Linked DNA regions of Homo sapiens: region 2 is linked to region 1. Evidence: fine-mapped expression QTL. A gene starts in region 1. The other region holds a variant in brackets. All regions are shown on one strand. Distances are between the middles of the regions.

Evidence for each region. PIP is the estimated chance that this variant, and not a neighbour inherited with it, causes the effect.
Region 2: its variant is the best candidate, but not a certain one, in a credible set for the expression of CDC25B in adrenal gland (GTEx, PIP 0.77).

The regions. Positions count from the first base shown.
Region 1 is chr20:3,794,648-3,797,549 of GRCh38, forward strand. CDC25B (cell division cycle 25B) reads left to right here and starts at 1,663. Exons shown (of 16, transcript NM_021873.4): 1 at 1,663-2,084. The coding sequence starts at 1,885. RefSeq lists enhancers at 659-1,390, 1,301-1,460 and silencers at 1,691-1,760, 1,801-1,980, 2,047-2,254.
Region 2 is chr20:3,759,990-3,762,891 of GRCh38, forward strand. ADISSP (adipose secreted signaling protein) reads right to left here. Exons shown (of 6, transcript NM_001258429.2): 2 at 93-197. The coding sequence starts at 111. Among named protein-coding and RNA genes, the nearest start is that of ADISSP, 6.3 kb to the right of the region's middle. The variant G/A (reference allele first, on the strand shown) is at 1,590.

The sequences.
Region 1 (2,902 bases):
GGATGAACCGGAAATTCAGTCTTGCAGAGCCCTCTGCACAGCACAGGAGCTGGGCAAAATTTGGAGAAAAGGAAAGGTCACGTTCCCACCTTGGCCACCCCTCTCAGGTGGGGCTGGGGTCTTCCCCTACCCTTCAGATGCATTGGCCCACCCAGCCCCCCATCACCAGGCCCTCCCTTTTGCCACCCCCATCCAATGCACCTTGGGTCTGGGTGGCTGGGACTGCACGAGAAGGGGTACTCCTGCCTTGCTGAGCTGCAGCCCGCCCCCCGCACCACCACCCGCCCAGCCAGAGGCCACTTCTAACCTGGGGAGACAGGATGCGAAAGCTGCTCACTACCCACCGGCTTTTGGGTGCAGCCTTCAGGCCTCTTGTTCCAGGAGGCCTGGAAAACGAGCGGGGCTGGAAGGCATTTAGATAATTGGAAGATGGGCCGGGCACAGTGGCTCGTGCGTGTAATCCCAGCACTTTGGGAGGCCTAGGTGGGTGGATCACGAGGTCAGGAGTTCGAGACCAGCCTGGCCAATATGGTGAAACCCCCGTCTCTACTAAAAATACAAACATTAGCTGGGCGTGGTGGCGCGCTCCTGTAGTCTCAGCTACTCGGGAGGCTGAGGCAGAAGAATCGCTGGAACCCGGGTGGCGGAGGTTGTAGTGAGCAGAGATGGCCACTGCACTCCAGCCGGGTTGACAGAGGGAGACTCCATCCCAAAAAAAACAAAACAAAACAAAAAGAAAGATAATTGGAAGCTGCTCCGCTTAAAACGAATGACAAATTCAGCCTCCCTGGTCTGGTCATCAAAGAAACACCAATTAAATAATATGGTGCCATTGGCACCAAGTTAGCCAAATCATCAATGGGCGTGATACTTAATTCGCCTCTCTGGTTGCTGACACCCTCCTCGACCCCCAGCCGCGGAAATCCATTCCTAGTTCCACCGTTTAGAGCCTCTCCTGGGGCTGCCGCGAAAATTGGGCCGGTTGGGGTAACATCTAACCTGGGGTCCCGCGAAAGAGCCCATCAGTTCCGCTTGGGGGCCCCACTGCCCTCCCACCTCCTACGCTGGGCGCTTCTCCTGCGAATGACGTTTTGCTGCTGCTCAGCGCAGCCAGTCGCGGAGGCGGGGAGGCTGCGCGGTCAGAGGCGCCTGGAGCGAGCGAATCCTGGCCCACCGCCTGCCCAACCGCGTGACCTTGATTGAGTTAATGAACTTCACGCCTCAGCGTCCAGGTCTGTAAAATGGGGTGTCTAACGCAGACCGTACAGCCCAGCTGGGTTTAGCAAACTTCCGGGAGCCAGTTGGAGCCTCTCCCCATCCCTAGCGGTGATCCCAGGTGACGACATGCCGCGGGGGGTCCTGCGGAGGCCACCCTAGGGCGTTGCTGCTGCCTTTGGGAGTGTGGAGCTCCAAACCATGTCGCGAGAGGCGGATTTTGGGAGGCCGGGATCCTCGCGCCAGGGGGATGTGCGAGGGTGTGGGATAAATCTTAATTCCTCCGGCCCACCCAAAGCCTGGAAATCCAGCCTCCGCGCCTCTTGCCCTGCGGGCCCCGCCCTCAGTCCCGCCCTCATCTAACCCGCTACCCCATTGGTGGCGTCCGGCGGCGCGGCTGCTGTTATTTTTCGAATATATAAGGAGGTGGAAGTGGCAGCTGCAACTAGAGGCTTCCCTGGCTGGTGCCTGAGCCCGGCGTCCCTCGCCCCCCGCCCTCCCCGCATCCCTCTCCTCCCTCGCGCCTGGCCCTGTGGCTCTTCCTCCCTCCCTCCTTCCCCCCCCCCCCACCCCTCGCCCGCTGCCTCCCTCGGCCCAGCCAGCTGTGCCGGCGTTTGTTGGCTGCCCTGCGCCCGGCCCTCCAGCCAGCCTTCTGCCGGCCCCGCCGCGATGGAGGTGCCCCAGCCGGAGCCCGCGCCAGGCTCGGCTCTCAGTCCAGCAGGCGTGTGCGGTGGCGCCCAGCGTCCGGGCCACCTCCCGGGCCTCCTGCTGGGATCTCATGGCCTCCTGGGGTCCCCGGTGCGGGCGGCCGCTTCCTCGCCGGTCACCACCCTCACCCAGACCATGCACGACCTCGCCGGGCTCGGCAGGTAGGACACCCCAAGGAGGCTGCATATGGGGGTGAGAGGCTAGGTCTGGAGTCCTGGGCCTCCTGGAGAACTGGGCATGGTAGTCGAATCCAGGAGGTGGAGTCCGGGGAGGCATCCTGAGCAGTGGAGAGGTACGCCCTTGTTCCCTCCTAGGGGCCCAGGACATGGGAAGTGAGACCTGGGCTGTGCCCCCCACACCTCCAGGTGACCTGCTCTCAGTCTGCACAAGCCTCTCCAAATCTTCTTTCCCCTCACTCCCTCCTCCCTCATTGTGCCTCCACCACGCTGCCTCCGTAATCTCTGCCCGGATAGCCACCATTTTGCCCCAGGATGGGAATCTCAAGCCTGGAGAGGGAACTTAAGGGTGGCAGAGCCGTGGAGCACTCACACATCCATGCCCCTGCTCCCTCCACCCCAGTTCTGCCCCCAGAATTAAGACAATTAATTAAACACTGATCCTGCTCCCTAAGTCTGCAAGGGGAGAGCTGGGTTGTTCCAGTAGGAGAACCTGGTCTTGGTCCATCCTTCAGGAAGGGTCCTGGAAAGGTGGGGGTCTGACAGTTTAGGGGAAGGCTCTCTGGGGCGGCTCTGCTAGACCACCAACCCTTAGGCTGGCCTCCAGCCAGGCAGCCTTGCTCACACCCTGGGCTCACCTTGCCCTGCTCCTGAGAGGACCTTTCCTAAACCAGTCAACGAAGAGAAGACGCTTTAGGGCCTCTGTAGAATGAACCTTCCTTGACCTGAGAAGAGGGGGCCCTCAGGGCCATTGCTTTCCCGGTGTAGTGTTTCGCTCAGTTCTTTTCTCAGCAAGGGAGTGG
Region 2 (2,902 bases), 35 kb before region 1:
GGTGGTGCGGGCCCTACCTGCAGCAATGGCCCTCCTACCAGGGCCCACCGGAAGAGCTTGTGCAAGTCCTACCACGCCAGGAAGGCACTTACCCTTGTTGGCTGCAGCCATGGACGCCCTCCCTGCCACGCAGCTCCTGCCAGACACCGCCACTCACGCTCAGCAGCCTCCCATGCTCCAGGGACACCAGCGGGAGCCTGAAGGATAGGGAGTGGGGAGGGCAGGGGTCAGGGCCACTCATGGACCCATGGCTCAGGGACACCAGAGGAGCTCCCTTTAGGAAGGACTCAAACCCCTACCGCTCTCAGCAGCCCAAGTGGTGCCTGTACTCTCTAGCACGGGGGCTTCTGCCCACCCTCTACCGACTGCCCACATTCACCAAGAGCCCTCACCCCTTCCTGATACCCCAGTGACTCAGGGTCCTGCCAGCATGTGCTGAGCTGCAGCTTCTAGGTGCCAAAGCAACAGCATAGGACTCCTATCCCCAGCACCCCCAGAGACTGGCAGGAGGGGCAGCCTGGAAAGGAGGACTTTATTGGTATTTTCCAGGGACCAGTTCTGGTGCTGCTGACCCCAAAGGCTGGGCCTGGAGCTACCTTATTCAGGTCACACAAGCAATGCAGCTGGGTGCGGTCAGAGGCAACAGGGTGCTCGATGGTGGGCAAGAACAGGGGACCACATAAAGTAAGCGTGCCCTTAGAGCTTTCCCTCCTGGTGATCGGTCAGGGCCATATGCAAAACAGATGCCTGTGGAGGGGGTGTGCCCCCACCTGAACCCCATTCAGACCCTGCCCTGAGTCTCAGGCCTGCCTCCGCCTCAGCTCCCCAACGGCAGCCTCAGCACAGGGGCAGTGAGAGGCGCCCCAGGAAGCCTCCAATGGGCCGAGCTGGGACCATCTGAGCATCAAAAAGAATAATGAGTGCAACTGATGGAAACAGATGGAACACATAAAAGCAGTGCATTCACAGAGATTATTAGAAAAGAAGAGAGAAAGCAAAACAAACAAACCCAAGCCCTCAAAAGCCCTCATTTGTCACCACTGACGGTAGCAGTGCCCTCTTTACTCTGAAAGCTGAGGATTAAAGAGGAAGAATTCAGCCTGTCTCTTGGCCTTTCTTGTAACCAAATTGCCCTGGTGGTTGATGGAAAGCTCTTCTTTCGGAAAGAATTCTTGCTAATAAATAACAAAGAAATGACCAAATGCTAAGTCATTCTGCAACCCCTAAAGGAACAAATGCTGGAGGCAACAAGAACCAGTGGATGCTAAACCAGAGGGGAAGGTTGACAGGAAGCAGATACTCACAGGCGCCCAAGCGTCACTGACAGAGGACCTGGTATGGTTTTTGTTTTTTTTTTTTTTCTGAGACGGAGTTTCACTCTTGTCACCCAGGCTGGGATGCAATGGCACGATCTCGGCTAACTGCAACATCTGCCTCCTGGGTTCGAGCGACTCTCCCACCTCAGCATCCCGAGTAGCTGGGACTACAGGCGCCCGCCACCACGCCTAGCTAATTTTTGTATTTTTAGTAGAGACAGGGTTTCACCATGTTGGCCAGGCTGGTCTCGAACTCCTGACCTCAAGCAATCC[G/A]CTCACTTCGGCCTCCCAAAGTGTTGGGATTACAGGTGTGAGCCACCATGCCTGGCCGAGGACCTGGTGTTTAAGAGGAATGGCACAAGTTTGCAATGGAGGTATGTGACTTCTCCCAGTCACACACTGGTCTATCTCTCTACTCTCTGCAGGACAGCCTGTCACACTGATGCCTCCTGAAGTAAGGCAGCCCAAAGTCACAGCATCACTGACAAGGGATTCCTGCCAAAAAGGTTTAACCTGGAATCTAAACCAGCCTCTAACTTCAACTTCTCATTTGCTAAAAACACAGAGGAGAGGGGAACAAATTTAATGACTCCATGAGAAAGCAATGAGACGAGCCCAGAAGGCAGGATATTCTACAGGATGACTGACCTGTTTTTTGTTTTTGTTTTTGTTTTCAAATGTCAAGAAGAAAAAGAAAGCAGGCTGGGAACGGTGGCTCACGCCTGTAATCCCAGCACTTTCACGGATCACAAGGTAAGGAGTTCAAGACCAGCCTGGCCAACATAGTGAAACCCAGTCTCTACCAAAAGTACAAAGATTAGCCGGGTGTGGTGGCGGGCAGCTGTAGTCCCAGCTAGTTGGGAGGTTGAGGCAGGAGAATCACTTGAATCCGGAAGGCGGAGGTTGCAGTGAGCCAAGATCGCGCCACGGCACTTCAGCCTGGGTGACACAGCGAGACTCTGTCTCAAGAAAAAAAAAAAAGAAAGAAGAAAAATAAAACGAGGGAGATTATTCTAGATAGGAAAGCAGCAAACTACAGCTGATTACACAGCTGATGGTAAGGTTGCTGCCTGTTGTGTTTTTGTTTTTGTTTTTGAGACAGGGTCTCACTCTGTCCAGCCCAGGCTGGAGTCCAGCTCACTGCCACCGTAATCTCCCAGGCTCAAGCAATCCTCCCACCCCAGCCTGCCAAGTAGCTGAGACCACAGCCACGCACCACCATGCCCGGCTAATTTTTGTAGAGACAGAGTTGCCCAGGCTGGTCTCAAACTCCGGAGCTTAAGCGATCCACCCACCTCAGCCTCCCAAAGTGCTGGGATTACAGACGTGAGCCGCCAGGCCTGGCAAATAAATTTTTGCAAATAAAGTTTTACTAATAGAACACTACACTTCATTCACTTACATGTTGTCTGTTTTTGCACTAAAACAAAGTTACTTCCAAGTAGTTATGATAGAGACCATATGGCCTGCAAAGTCTAAACCATTTATTATTTGGCCCTTCAGAGCAAAAGTTTGCCAACCCTTGTTCTAGATCAACACACACTTAACAGACCAAAAAAGGATAATCTTCAGGACAACTGACCTGT